Linked DNA regions of Homo sapiens. The protein of the gene in region 4 interacts with the protein of the main gene of each other region in a pairwise test. Each region holds a gene or a part of one and is shown on either strand. Other genes may lie near its edges.

Region 1 (3,165 bases), on a different chromosome or scaffold from region 4:
CCTTTTGTGTTTAATTCTATTTTAGCTTGTCTGGGTTCTATACTGTGATCTCATTTGCCTCGACTACGATGGAAACATTTTGGATGCCTGCACATTTGCTTTGCTAGCGGCTTTAAAAAATGGTAAGCAGCCTTACAAAAAAGGCAATATTCCCACTCATGGGTTAGAATGTTGTTTTGTGAAACTTTTAATGTACATTTGCTTTCGTATGCTTCCAAATTAATGAATGTAATGCTGACATGACTTTCCAAATATAGTTGATAGTTGTATATTCTCTAACTGAATGCTCTTTAGAGTGCTGCTTTGACTGTACCCATCTACTTAAGTTAGGACTTCAGTCCTTTCCAAAATAGTGTTAATATTGGTGGGAGAAGGAGACAAGAGTTGTAACTTCTGGCTAGGTGATTGGTGAAGATCTGCCAGTATCCTCATAGTTCTTTATGTGATATTGCCAAAAGAAGTAGAATGGATTCTGTTGTTTTTACTGTGAGGCCATAGTAATAGGGAAGTTTCTTAGCAAGGAGTCTAGGTTGACTGATTAGTTACAGATTTCAATAACTTGTGCATATTCCCTATCATTGATGAATGATGAATTGGTAGGAACAAATAATTGGAGGTGGAATATAAAGTTAGCACAGCAATATTATAGTAGAGTGGTTAAGTGAATTGGAGGTAGAAAATGAAGTCAGCAAAATATTATAATAGACTGGTTAAAGTAGATTCCTGGCTCTCTCACTCTGTGCTGAAGTTTCCTTATCTATAATAAAATAGGGATAATAGTACTTACTTTGTAAGAGTATTGATTAGGTGAATACAATGAAAATATGAAAATGCTTAAAACAGTACCTGGCAGATATAAATTTAAAAAAAAATCATTGACTTCTTAAACTTAAAAAAAAATTATGCAATAAGCACTAGGTAGGAATGTCAGATGTTGTGAAAAGCAATGTATATCCTCTATATTTACCTTAGTGGCTGTAAGGTGCTTTTTAAAAAGAAATGTTCTGGGCAAGTTAAATAGAGGGAAAGGTGAATTAAAAAAAAAAAAGCTTAGAAATCATTTGTTTCTTAGAGACTTACTTACTTTACAAATTTGCCTTTTCTTAGTACAGTTGCCTGAAGTTACTATAAATGAAGAAACTGCTTTAGCAGAAGTTAATTTAAAGAAGAAAAGTTATTTGAATATTAGAACTCATCCAGTTGCAACTTCCTTTGCTGTGTTTGATGAGTAAGTTAATCAAACTTACTTTAAAATTTTCTATATTTAAGATTAGGGTAATTGATGTTCAGCATTCTAACTCTTTAGGAAGTGCTATGGTGACCCTACATCCTAGTTTTCCCTGGACACTTGAGTTTCTACTTGTCCCTGCACAATTATTTCTAGTCACTGCACAATTATTACCTGTTCCTTGGTTTACTTATACCTGTGTAATGTTAATTTCCAATTCTTTCACTATAAGATTTATCTGAAGCTATCTTCAATATTTTCCAAGGATTTTAGCACGTTCAGAAATAGAAGAGCAGGGCCGGGCATGGTGGCTCATGCCTGTAATCCCAGCACTTTGGGAGGCTGAGGCAGGGGATCACCTGAGGTCAAGAATTCAAGACCAGCCTGGCCAACATGTTGAAACCCTGTCTCTACTAAAAACACAAAAATTAGCTGGGTGTGATGGCGTGTGCCTGTTAATTCCAGCTACTTGGGAGGCTGATAGTATGTTTAGTATTTTAAAGTAAAATTTGTTCCATGGATTGATAACTTATATTTTTTTCTTTTTATAGCACTTTGCTTATAGTTGACCCTACTGGAGAGGAGGAACATCTGGCAACAGGAACCTTAACAATAGTAATGGATGAGGAAGGCAAACTCTGTTGTCTTCACAAACCAGGCATGTTCCCGCCACTTCAGTCCTAAACATATGTAGATGAAAACTCAGTGTGAGCCTTAAATTAGGGAGGGCCAAATAGAATATGGGATATTTTATTTACCTAATTTTAGTATAGTTTCTTAGCTACCTAAAATGTTCTTCCATCTTAATGGTATATGTCAGTGGTTCTTAAACTTAAGACATACATTAGAATCACTTGGAGGTCTTGTGAAACTAACTTGTAGATCTTGAGACTGTACCCTGATTTACATTATCCAATTTTTTTGTTTTATAATTTGACATGACATTAATGTTTTTTGAAAAGGAATGATAACTGAGATTAAAAGTATTGGCAAAATAATTTTTCAGGTGGAAGTGGGCTAACTGGAGCTAAACTTCAGGACTGTATGAGCCGAGCAGTTACAAGACACAAAGAAGTTAAAAAACTGATGGATGAAGTAATTAAGAGTATGAAACCCAAATAAACAGCCACCACATTTTCAAAACAGATTTGTAAAAATTGTATTTGTTAACACTGTGCACAAACGTTTTATACTAAATAAATATCAAACTACATTCTTCTGAAAGATGTTTCTATTATTTCTTAGGTCACTTCCATATATATTATGTATAGTGAAACCATTTTTAAAAAGCAATGACTTAGGCAAACCAACCCTAGTTTGTTAAACCATTTCCCTGTTTTTATTTAAAAATGATAAGGTTGTGCTTCTGTATAAAGTTTGTACATCTAGCAATGTAAAATACTGACACATTAAAAAAAACAAAAAGTAGAAACTCAATTCTTTTGATTCAGTGCTCTTGTGTTTTTAAAAAAGGAACAAAAAGTAATGCAAGACTCAAAATTTTGGAGTGGTTGGCGTGCCTCTCTTCATTTTACTTTTTGACTGGCTGCCTGTATGCCGATGATGATGTAGCTGAGCTGTTTGTGCTGCTGCTGCTGCCATAGCCATTTGATGCTGCAAGAATCGCAACTGCTGCAAAAGGGAGGGAAAAAAATCGAGTTATGTTAAATGCAGGCAGGTGTAGAAAGGTGCTTTTCCTGAGTGACGAAACAACACAACTGAAAAAGGGAGAAAGCACCAAGATAACAAAAAGGGACTATACCACATTGAGACAATGCACAGTCAAACAGCACCAGTGGCACAGAAGCCTGCTAAGGGCTTTAAAAATGATTCTTGGCAAACTTCAAAATTATTTGTTACTTTGCCCTGCCAGTCTATATTGTAGTAACTCAGCAACTTCAGTTACCATTTTGTTGTATAATGATGGTTTATAGCAA
Region 2 (3,500 bases), on a different chromosome or scaffold from region 4:
CTAGGTTCAAGCAATTCCCCTGCCTCAGCCTCCTGAGTAGCTGGCACTACAGGCATGCGCCGCCACACCCAGCTAATTTTTGTATTTTTGGTAGAGATGGGGTTTCACCATGTTGGCCAGGCTGCTCTTGAACTCCTGACCTCAGGTGGTCCACTCACCTAGGCCTCCCAAAGTGCTGGGATTACAGGTGTGAGCCACCGCGCCCAGCCCCAGAGCTCTCAGTCTTAACCGCACATTTTGAAAATTGAAAATTACAGATAGGAGGTCTTACAATATGGATTGCCCTGAGGAGGTGCACAGCAGAAGGCGTGGTCAGGATGCCAAGCCAGGGGAGTCATTTGTGGGGTCATGCCCTCTACCCTGTGTCTCTTGCAGCGGTCCCAGTCTCCAGCTGCCTCTGACTGCTCATCCTCATCCTCCTCGGCCAGCCTGCCTTCCTCCGGCAGGAGCAGCCTGGGCAGTCACCAGCTCCCGCGGGGGTACATCTCCATTCCGGTGATACACGAGCAGAACGTTACCCGGCCAGCAGCCCAGCCCTCCTTCCACCAAGCCCAGAAGACGCACTACCCAGCGCAGCAGGGGGAGTACCAGACCCACCAGCCTGTGTACCACAAGATCCAGGGGGATGACTGGGAGCCCCGGCCCCTGCGGGCGGCATCCCCGTTCAGGTCATCTGTCCAGGGTGCATCGAGCCGGGAGGGCTCACCAGCCAGGAGCAGCACGCCACTCCACTCCCCCTCGCCCATCCGTGTGCACACCGTGGTCGACAGGCCTCAGGTACGGGAAGTTAGTCGTCAGCAGACTGGTTATGGTGGTATGTCTCCAGGGGTGCAGGAGCTCTGTGGGTGCCCTGGGTTCCCCCTTCATCCCTGCCTATTTAACATGCGTGTACCTACAGGCAAGTGAGATTCGAGAAATTGCTAGGTATTAACAGAAATGCAGGACAGTTGCTCAGGCTGTGAACCCTCCGCACTCTGCAGCTTTTGCTGGGCTGATCATTGTGCATTGCGGCTGACTTAGAGCAGACGAAACAGCTTGGCAGAACTTACATACCTGGGACCAGCTTCCTTAGTGTCCACCACACCCTTTCAGGGCTCTTCACACCCCCATCCACACCGCAGCCACAGCCTCACCTTGGGTGTAGGCAGTGTGTCACCTTCCACTCAGTTACCCACTCCACTCTGCAGGCCCATTCTGCTCATTCCCACCCCTGTGCCTTTGCCCATGCTGAACCCGCTCCCTGAAATGCCCGCACAGTATAGGTTCTCCCTGTCCTCTGAGGGACGAGCCAGTCTTGTCTCCTCCATGAAGCCTACTCATCCTTCTCATCTCATGATGCCTCATATGAGTCCCTTAATGAGAACTCCCAACTTGTATGAGTTCAACATGTCATTATTCGGGGCATTTCAGAAGTGTTCATTTTATCTCTTCAGCTTAGGGCTGAGCCTGACCACAGGGCCCATGTCTTAACCCCCCTCCTCCCTTTGTAATCAGGTACCATGTGGTCTGGCTGAGGCATCAGCCAGCTATGGCGGATTGGAAGCCGTGCTGGCCTGGGGAAGGTTGTAGGCAGGGGTCTGGTTATCTTCCAGTGGAGACACAAGGTGCAGGTTCCTGGAAGAGGATGTCATTTAGTTTAAGCAGCTCACAGCTTAGCAGCAGGACAGTCAGCAGCCCTGGGCCCCCTGTGGCTGCAACTTGAGCAGCTGAATGCTACAGTTTTTAAAAAGGAAAGCCCCCCGTGAACAAATGTGGGATATTCTTTCATTACAAATGGTCACACTGGCCAGGGCCCTGGAATAGAGCACCCTCATCTTAAAATGTTGTTTTATTTGGAAATAATTTCAATCTCATAGAAGAGTTGTGTGAATCATACAGAGCCCCACATATACTTCATCCAGTTCACTGTTTGTCAATATGTCTGCATTCGCCTTGTCATTTCTTCTCTCGTATATTATTGATGTGTTTTAACTGTTTGAAAATTAATTGCAGACATCATGTCCCTTTTCCCCTGAATAGCAAATATTTTCCTAAGAGGAAGACATTCTCGTTCATAACCATGGTAGACTTACCAGATTCAGGAAATTTCACATTCTTACAACATTATTATCCAGTACATTTTTGAATCTTTTTTATAGCAGTTTGCCCCCACTTCCAGGATGTCTTCCAGGACTGAAACAAGGATCATGAGCACCGCATTTAGATGCAACTTCTCTTCAGTCTTCCCTCAGCCTTTCTTTGCTTTCACGGCCTTGACGGTTTTGAAGAACACAGGCTGTGGAACACCCTCTCTAAAGTGTTTCTAAAGTCACTTCTTACACAGCCATTGCTGTTAGAACCTAGGAGGGGTGCGTGGTTGGGTTGTGAGTGGTAAGGGCCAAAGTTGCGAATGTCTGCATTGGCGAAAGAGATTTGATGGAAAAGGAGGTTGCTGGAGTGTAGACAGCTACATCGATCCATACTTGGGTTCAGCAATCCTAGGAGGGTCCCATTTGTAGAGAGAGGGATATTTTCTCCACATCATTCCCATGTGTTTCTCATCATCAGTGAAATGATATTTCATCCTGTTCTTACCATTAACCGTGTTTGTGGTGACCTCCCTTTTAGAGCTGATTCAAAGTTCCCTTTTGGGAGGCTTTCCAGGATTTCACCAAACTGAACGTTATAGTGGAATTGAGTGTTTTAAGCTGGGAATAGTTTAGAAATAATATAGTCCAGTTATTTCCCAGTTGATGAAATTAGGGTGAGATTTTAAAAGAAGTGTTAGATATTCACTTACATGAATAAGAGCCAAGATAAGGCCAAGCGCAGTGGCTCACGCCTGTAATCCTGTAATCCTAGCACTTTGGGAGGCCGAGGCGGGGGTATCACTTAAGGTCAGGAGTTCAAGACTAGCCTGGCCAACATGGTGAAACCCCATCTCTACTAAAAATACAAAAAAAAAAGTTAACCAGGCATGTTGGTGGGCGCCTGTAATCCCAGCTACTCGGGAGGCTGGGGTGGGAGGATTGCTTGAACTTGGGAGGCAGAGGTTGCAGTGAACTGAGATCACACCACTGCACACTCCAGCCTGGGTGACAGAGCGAGGCTCCGTCTCAAAAACAAAAACAAAAACAAAAAGCGTCAAGATATTTTTGCTTTGAGCATAGCTCATTAAAAAATATATGGCTTACTAGGCGTGGTGGCTCACACCTATAATCCTAGCACTTTGGGAGGCCGAGGTGGGCAGATTGCTTGAGCTTAGAAATTCAAGACCAGCCTGGGCAGCATGGTGAAACCCTGTCTCTACAAAAAAATAGAAAAATTAGCCAGGCATGATGGTATGTGCCTGTAGTTGCAACTAATCATGAAGCTAAGGTGAGAGGATCACTTGAGGCCAGAAGGTTGAGGCTGCATTGAGCTGTGATAGCCCCGCTGCACTCCAGCCTGGGCAACAGAGTGAGACCCTGTCCCCCACAAAAATCTATATATCTATATGGCTGTAGTTTATAGTCACAGGA
Region 3 (3,987 bases), about 84 Mb from region 4:
ACCTCTCGAAACCCACCAGTCCCAGAGGCCGACTCTTCTCAAGTGGAGGAGAGGGGAAGGCGTGCATGGAGCTTTGCCTGACCGCTCGCTCTCTCCTCCCCAGCCGTCTGAGAGAAGGCGAGAGGGGTCCCAGAACCGAGCCCTCGCTCCGCACGCCCCACGCCCGCCCCGCTGTGCCGTGCGCTCTGCCCCTGAGACGCCCCGGCTCGGAGTCCCAGGGCCACAGCCGAAACTCGCCCTCCCGCGCCCCTCTCCGGCTTGCAGCGCCCGCCCGCACCGCCACCTGCCACCCGAGGCGACGCAGTCCGCTTCTCCCCACCCGCCAGGTGGCAGGTTCAGGGCCGGGGTCCGAGCCTGCTTCCCTGCAGCTGCCACAGCCACCCTCGCCGCCAGGGGGCGAGAGTCCCAGGCAGGACAAGCAGCGCTGCTGCCTTGGCGTGAAGGTGGTTTCAAACTTTAGGCTTCTTTTCCCTACCCCGCGTCTCTGAAGAGCAGAGAGGAAGATGGAAACCGAGTCCGGGCCGGTGAGTACGGCGATCAGGGCCCCAGGGCGCGGGATAGCGGGGAGAAGGAGCAGCGTGGAGCCTGTCCCTGAGGGCTTGGAGGGGCGAGGTGAAGGCCCCAAACGCTCGCTATCTGGTTGGGAAGAAACGTGGCCAGGTGCCCCATCGACCGCTGCCAGGAGCCACCCGCCCGCAGACCTCGTCTGGCTGTGTCATGGGGGTCAGAAAGGCGCCGCCACGGGGCCTGGACTGGGTGTAGACGGGCCAGGGGACCTCAGGCGTGGATGTTTCGGGAGGCGGCGGGCTGCCAGGCACCCAGCGAAGTCCGAGCAGGTAAACCGCTTTCCCGCCGAAATTGGGCTAGGCAGCGTCTTTGACGCTCCCTGCGGCCGAACTCGACCCAGCCGCCCAAGGCGAGGAGTTGCCAGGGCGGTCGACGCCTCCACTCCCCGACTGGTCAGCGAGGACCGGAAGGTCTGAGAGACCTGGCAGGGCCCGCCTGTGGCCCAGGCGGGACCCGGACACTCTAGCCCTGGCTGTGCACCCAAGCCAGTCAGGGTGGACTTGGGGAAGTGAAGGAGGACTGCCCGCACAGGCCCGAGGCGCAGCGGCAACGTGCCATCCCGCCCCGCCCCGTCCCGCCGCCAGCAGCCAATCAGGGAGCGCCGCGCGAGGGTGGGGACCAGCTGCGCACGAGGCCAGCGGCGGGGTCGCTGCCGTTGAGGCTTCCCGCCACTGCTGCTGGCGGATTTGTGGGGCAAAATTTCTCGCTGGCTAGCCTTCTTTTCCCTCCCGCACTTTGGTGGGGAGGGGGTGGATCCTCGTTTCGGTGCCCAAGTTCACGATGACCCGAGAGAACTCGAGGAAGTTGTCGCCGCGGCCATTTCCCCCAGTGCCGCAACTTGCTGGCCTTGGAGGGGGAGGAGCGCCGAGGCAGTGACTGCGACGGTTAGCCCGCCCGTTCCTGCTGTCTTCGTTTGCAAAATAGATGCTAGATCTCGAGGTTGATTCTCAAGGGGAGGGGCCAGTGAGGGCACATTGCTTTGGAGGAGTAGTTTAATAAACTCTCTAGTGCTGGAAGTTTTAGCAAACGGAGGAGCCTTCAAACCCGGCAACAGTCCCCATCTAGGTGTTTCCGTAACACATGCGGAATTATTGCTAGTGGAATTTCAGGCTTTCTTTGTTGTTTAACTCAATGCATCGCTAATTGTTTATAATGAACTTAGATGTTGCCTCCACCTGAGCCTTGCTATTGCTAACATTAAAATATTTTGTAGGCCTGGCGCGATGGCTCCCGCCTGTAATCCCAGCACTTTGGGAGGCCAAGGTGGGCGGATCACGAGGTCAGGAGATCGAGACCATCCTGGCCAAAATGGTGAAAACCCATCTCTACTAATACAAAAAAATTAGCTGGGCGTGGTGGTGCGCACCTGTAGTCTCAGCTACTCAGGAGGCTGAGGCAGGAGAATCTCTTGAACCAGGGAGGCGGAGGTTGCAGTGAGCCGAAATCACGCCACTGCACTCCAGCCTGGCGACAGAGCAAGACTGTCTCAAATATATATATATATATATATATATATATATATATATATATATATATATATATATATATGTATTAGACTGCTGTTATACTGTATTCTTTAGCCTTCAGCCTATTTGGCATATCATGAGCAGGTCTCTCCTGAAGAAATGATTCACTTTTAGTCATTCAACAGATATTTATTGAGCACCTGCTGTGTACTGTCAGTACTTTAGATGCTGCCATGAAAAAAGCAAAACTTCTGCCCTGGTGCATTACATAATAGTGGAGACAGATAATAAACATACTAAGTAAACTATATCGTATGTTAGAAAATGATGAGGGAGAAAACTTAAGCAGAGCGAGCCCACAATAGAGCCTTAGAGAGTGGAGGAGAATGAAGTGAATTGAGTGTGAAAGGTTGTTTTTCTTTTCTCAGGGAGTATCCTTTAGTTTCTCGAGATTGGAAATAAAGCACTGTTTACTTCCGTTCATTTCATCCTTCTCTCAATGAAATATAATGGGGTTTGTCTTTTACTTAAACTTGCGAACATATTAGTACATCTTATTTTCAATAAGAGAATTTCATGAAGAATGATTTTTTAAATTTAGCAAATAGGTAATTTTGACACTGTAAACAAATGGGCAGAAAGACAAGATTACATCTACTAGAGCTGTTATATTATCTCTAGCAATACAAAATCCATAGTTGAAAAATACTAAGCATTCCAGAATTACCCATTCTGAGCATTATATCCTACTGAGCGAAGTGACTGAAGTCACAAATAACCTCCAAGTGCCCAGAGAGAAAGCTGTTAAGATTAGATTCCCAGTTTCTTTCATTGGAAACTACAACATAGTAATTATTAAATGTGGTGGCTTTTCTGTGTTTTAAAAGAAGTATTTACATATTCCCTTATTAGGAGTACATACTTCCTTAAGGCTGGATGGGGAAGAGAGCCCATAAGGTCCAGCCTATAGCCCAATTGCCACTCCTGCCCTAGTCATTTCTCTGTACATCTTGCAAAGATTAATTTAGGGATTGTGATTGTATTGGCCAGAGAAGAAAGAGCAGAACAAATTTGAAAAAGAACAACTTTATTACCTGAGCTGGAGATTCATTTTCATGAGTTTGTTTCTCAGAGAATTGGAATTATGAACTTCAAGCTTTTGTTATTTTCTTTTTCTTTCTTTTTGAGATGGGGTCTTTCTTTGTTGCCCAGGCTGGTCTCGAACTCCTGATCTCAAGCAATCCTCCTGCCTCAGCCTCCCAAGCAGCTGGGATTACAGGCACAAGCCACAACACCCAGTTTACTTCAAGTTTTTTGAAGCACACATTTAGGATATTATGGGGTTTGTCTTTAGGATATTATGGGGTTTGTCTCAGAAGTGTGTTTAGTGTTTCCAGATGGAAAATAATTCACCAGTTCTTGAATTGGTTTCTCTTCAATGTGATTCTCAAGTCTTGGGTTTTTTTTCAGTTATACCTTAAAAGTCTATTATCTTACCATTCTGCAAAGGCTTATACATTTATATATATTTATTAAAATTTAAATTATGTCCTCTAACTTAGAATTGTGAACATGTGGATATGTACTGAGCTAATTCTTTGGAATAAACATTTATGAGCTACAAGTATATAATTTTTTAACAAAATCAGTCCAATCTTCAAATTGACAAGTGCATTTAAAATTTTGACTTTCAGGCTGAAAATGGTGAATGTGAATGTTAGAGTTTATTAACTTGTCGATGACCATTAGTTAAAGACCACCAGGAACACATGCGTCATTTAGTAAAGTTGGGTCTGTTAATTGTTCAAACAAGGGAAAACATAAACCATGGGGCCTCTCAATCAGAAGGTGTTAGAACTTACAGGATATAGGCTTCTGTTGAGCAATTTCTAGAGAGGGTTTAAGGAAGTAGGGCTTTACTCTGGAATGTATAGCGTCAGGAAATGGTAGTAAT
Region 4 (4,260 bases):
CATAATTATAGACACTATGTGACTATCAAGGGCATAATATTCTTTCATGCTGCATTTTTATTAGATGGCACCTCAAAGTTTTCCCAAGTAGGTGGGTTTTAAATTATGAATATATACCGTGGCATAGTATCTTACTTAGTATTTTAATAAGATCCTTATTTATATAACAAATATTTTTTTTATTCCTCTGTAGTGCTACTTTAGTCTCTGAGCTAATTTTCATGAAGCCAATCTAAAAATCGTGTTACTTCTAAGGATGTGGAGCGAGTGAGATGAACAGTTGTGCTGTCATATTGCCCCTCCCCAGTGCAGACAGTGAATGAGGACCCACTGATTTAAAGGCAACACTGCAGCCCCTTCTTGCCTCATTGAAGTCCCAAGTTTTATTACAGTAAAAGCACTTAATGTTGACATTTCTGAAAGAATGAAGAGGCCGGGCGCGGTGGCTCACGCCTGTAATCCCAGCACTTTGGGAGGCTGAGGCAAGCGGATCATGAGGTCAGGACATCGAGACCATCCTGGCTAACACGGTGAAACCCCGTCTCTACTAAAAATACAAAAAAATTAGCCGGGCGTAGTGGCGGGCGCCTGTGGTCCCAGCTACTCGGGAGGCTGAGGCGGGAGAATGGCGTGAACCCGGGAGGCGGAGCTTGCAGTGGTCCGAGATTGTGTCACTGCACTCCAGCCTGGGCGACAGAGCGACAACGTCTCAAAAAAAAAAAAAAAAAAAAAAAGGAAAAAAAGAATGAAGAGCCAGAGCCAGGCATAGTGGCACGCCTGTAGTCCCACCTACTCAGGAGGCTGAGGCGGGAGGATCACTTGAGCCCAGGAATTCAAAGCCAGCCTGTGCAACATAGACCCTGTCTCTAAAAATGAATTGGTTATAAAGGATGAAGAAAGGAAGGAGGAAAGGGAGAGAGAGAAGCCCTTATAGAGTGGGTGCATTTCTTGTATGTGGGGCCACTTTGTAAGAACAGGATTTTTCAAACTGGGCCCATACTGGTATGTGTGAAATCAATTTAGTTGGTTATGGCCATTTTTTTTTAAAAGGAAATATCAGTGATCACTATAGTGTAAGTATATTGTTTCGTGAAAGCCATCTTAGTTATGTATTATGTCTGTATGTGTAAGATTGTGATATAAAATGTATTTCTGTGGTTAAATATTCAAAGAAATTGGAGAACCATTGCTACAAGGGGACAGAGGACTCCGTGTGAGCTCTCCTGCCTTCCCTGAATAAACTTACACAATTTAGTGCTGGGACATTTGAACCTTTTCTGAAAATTTGAGTCAGGGGAGAGCATCTTGGGGAGGTGGGAAGGAAGGTAGAAGGAGCAAAGCAACACCCCCCTGAAGCCTGGGAATATTGTCAGAACCTTAAATATAATTCAGCTCACCATTCTGGGTAAGGACAGACTCTACCAATGAAAATGGGTGATTACCAGCTGTGAAACACAAAAACATACTTTTACGGTTACACATTCCTTTACAAACAACCGTGTACATTTCAGCCTCCTGCCCCACCATTTCTTTTCTCCAGGAGGGAAGGCTGCATGTCGAGATGGTCGTAGAATGTTGAGTATCCTACTTTCCTACCTCGCTTTTATTTGCGCGGGTTTAAATGCGCCTTAACAGAACCCGTGCAAAGGCTTGCCTACTTGTCTGGCTGCACCGGATGAGTAGAGCATCTTCCTTGGTGGCAGGTGGGTGCGAGGAGGAGGGGGCTGGGCTTTTCTCCGGACGGTGTTTGCCCAGAAGACCATCATCCCTGGACTACGTTAGGAGGAAGTGGCACCGCTCCGAGGTAGGGGAAGAAGGGTTATAAAGGGGGGAGTCCACCACACATGGTCTTGAAGAAGCTTTTATAAAAGGCAAAGGCATCTTTGCCGGACGTTGTTGCAAAGGAGTAGAAACAAGCAGAGGAAAACATCCCAAAGGGTAACCACTAGCGTTCCTGCTTCTTGCAACATTCATCCCAGGCTTCCAGCTCAGCCCGCCCCGGGCCAGGTGATCGGCCGCCACATCCCCTGCGACTGAAGCACCTGCTCCGCCATGAACCTGCCAAGAGCTGAGCGCCCTCGCTCCACACCGCAGCGCAGCCTCCGGGACTCCGATGGGGAAGACGGTAAAATCGATGTCCTGGGAGAGGAGGAAGATGAAGACGAGGTGGAAGACGAGGAGGAGGAGGCGAGCCAGAAGTTCCTAGAGCAGTCGCTCCAGCCGGGGCTGCAGGTGGCCCGGTGGGGCGGGGTTGCGCTTCCCCGAGAGCACATCGAGGGCGGCGGCCCGAGCGACCCCTCAGAGTTTGGCACCGAGTTCAGGGCACCGCCAAGGTCTGCGGCGGCCTCTGAAGATGCCCGGCAGCCGGCAAAGCCCCCCTACTCGTACATCGCGCTCATCACCATGGCCATCCTGCAAAGCCCGCACAAGCGCCTCACGCTCAGCGGCATCTGCGCCTTCATTAGTGGCCGCTTCCCCTACTACCGCCGCAAGTTCCCCGCCTGGCAGAACAGCATCCGCCACAACCTCTCGCTGAACGACTGCTTCGTCAAGATCCCCCGCGAGCCGGGCCACCCAGGCAAGGGCACCTACTGGAGCCTGGACCCCGCCTCCCAGGACATGTTCGACAATGGCAGCTTTCTCCGGCGTAGGAAGCGTTTCAAGCGCCACCAACTGACCCCGGGAGCCCACCTGCCCCACCCCTTCCCTCTACCTGCTGCACACGCCGCCCTGCACAACCCCCGCCCAGGCCCTCTGCTTGGGGCCCCTGCCCTGCCGCAGCCAGTCCCGGGGGCCTACCCCAACACCGCCCCCGGGAGACGCCCTTACGCTCTGCTGCACCCGCATCCTCCTCGCTACCTACTGCTCTCGGCCCCCGCCTATGCCGGGGCACCGAAGAAAGCAGAAGGCGCGGACCTGGCGACCCCCGGCACCCTTCCCGTGCTGCAGCCCTCACTTGGTCCTCAGCCTTGGGAGGAGGGCAAGGGTCTGGCGTCGCCACCGGGAGGCGGATGCATCTCTTTCAGCATTGAGAGTATCATGCAAGGGGTCAGGGGAGCGGGTACAGGGGCTGCGCAGAGTTTGTCCCCGACCGCGTGGAGCTACTGCCCCCTGCTCCAGCGACCGTCAAGCCTGTCGGACAATTTTGCAGCAACAGCAGCAGCATCAGGAGGAGGACTGCGCCAACGGCTGCGCTCCCACCAAGGGCGCGGTGCTGGGCGGGCACCTGTCGGCCGCGTCGGCGCTGCTGCGGTATCAGGCGGTGGCAGAGGGCTCTAGGCTGACATCGCTGGCTGCCCCTTTGGGCGGAGAGGGGACCTCACCAGTTTTTTTAGTATCGCCCACGCCCAGTTCCCTGGCCAAGTCCGCAGGGCCCTCCTAGAGCCAGGTGGGAGTGGGGAGCGATCCGCAGCTGCTCACTCCACCTTGCGCGGCCCATACTGGGCGTGTGCATCTGAATCCTGCTGGAGAGCAAACACGAACTTCTGTTCCCTGCAAAATGGTTAGAAAGAAACAGCTGGATTACGTTCCTCTAAAAACCACCTGAACGTAACCTTCGCAGGGCGTCAAGTCATCTTTTCTTGCCTTCGGCTGTGGCTTCTGTGGCTTTCCGGATTTGCACATTTCCTGGGGTACTATGAACGTGAGTGGGGTATTTTGTTCTGGCATTAGAAGAAAAACAAGCAAGCAAACAAAAACACAGCCTCCGATGCCAAACATGTTCCCCCTTCTTCACTTCCTTGGAACTGGAAGTGTTATTCCTAAGTCTAGTGCAAAATGCTTCTACTCTCTGTGTCTTCCTGATAGGGATGTTTAATGTAAGTAGGATATTAATTTCAGAACATTGATTTCTTATCTGTGTGTCTGACGTGCCATCTTTAATGTTAAAATTAAGGTGTTAAAATTAAGCCTAGTTATATAGACGAAATAAAATGCTAAGTCACTACACTACATCGTTATTTTCTATTACGTCTCATTCTTCCCTTTCTAAATGGAACTTTTTAAAACCTACATTATTTTCCCTCAAACAATTTATTTTCACAATTCATATTTATTATAGATAGCAGAAGTAATCCATTTTAATATGGCCTTTAAAAATTCCAAATATTTGAGGTTGAAAATGTCCTGGCTTTTAAAATAGGAAATTTACTATTTATGAGACTTCTAAAAGAAAAGAATAGGAGGGCATGTAAATATATTCTCCATTTATTTTTCCTCACCCCCCAACAAGCTGGAAAACCGTTTGAGATCAATTTGGAA

The links. The genes of interacting proteins can lie anywhere in the genome.
Region 1: the proteins of FOXD4L1 (region 4) and EXOSC8 interact in binary tests that used the Homo sapiens proteins (3 or more experiments, as listed by UniProt).
Region 2: the proteins of FOXD4L1 (region 4) and BAG3 interact in binary tests that used the Homo sapiens proteins (3 or more experiments, as listed by UniProt).
Region 3: the proteins of FOXD4L1 (region 4) and BOLL interact in binary tests that used the Homo sapiens proteins (3 or more experiments, as listed by UniProt).

What each region holds. Positions count from the first base shown.
Region 1 is NC_000013.11:37,006,950-37,010,114, forward strand, and holds the end of EXOSC8 (exosome complex component RRP43), read left to right. Parts: intron 1-25; coding exon 26-122; intron 123-1,107; coding exon 1,108-1,228; intron 1,229-1,779; coding exon 1,780-1,886; intron 1,887-2,234; coding exon 2,235-2,350; 3' UTR 2,351-2,665; downstream 2,666-3,165. Other genes in the region: SUPT20H (transcription factor SPT20 homolog), read right to left, coding at 2,723-2,860. UniProt on the Homo sapiens protein: Non-catalytic component of the RNA exosome complex which has 3'->5' exoribonuclease activity and participates in a multitude of cellular RNA processing and degradation events.
Region 2 is NC_000010.11:119,671,880-119,675,379, forward strand, and holds part of BAG3 (BAG family molecular chaperone regulator 3), read left to right. Parts: intron 1-375; coding exon 376-777; intron 778-3,500. UniProt on the Homo sapiens protein: Co-chaperone and adapter protein that connects different classes of molecular chaperones including heat shock proteins 70 (HSP70s), e.g. HSPA1A/HSP70 or HSPA8/HSC70, and small heat shock proteins (sHSPs), e.g. HSPB8.
Region 3 is NC_000002.12:197,782,520-197,786,506, reverse strand, and holds the start of BOLL (protein boule-like), read left to right. Parts: upstream 1-1,187; 5' UTR 1,188-1,451; exon of another isoform or gene 1,452-1,491; coding exon of another isoform or gene 1,492-1,506; exon of another isoform or gene 1,507-1,875; coding exon of another isoform or gene 1,876-1,878; intron 1,879-3,987. UniProt on the Homo sapiens protein: Probable RNA-binding protein, which may be required during spermatogenesis. May act by binding to the 3'-UTR of mRNAs and regulating their translation.
Region 4 is NC_000002.12:113,497,205-113,501,464, forward strand, and holds FOXD4L1 (forkhead box protein D4-like 1), read left to right. Parts: upstream 1-1,460; 5' UTR 1,461-2,052; coding exon 2,053-3,279; 3' UTR 3,280-3,946; downstream 3,947-4,260.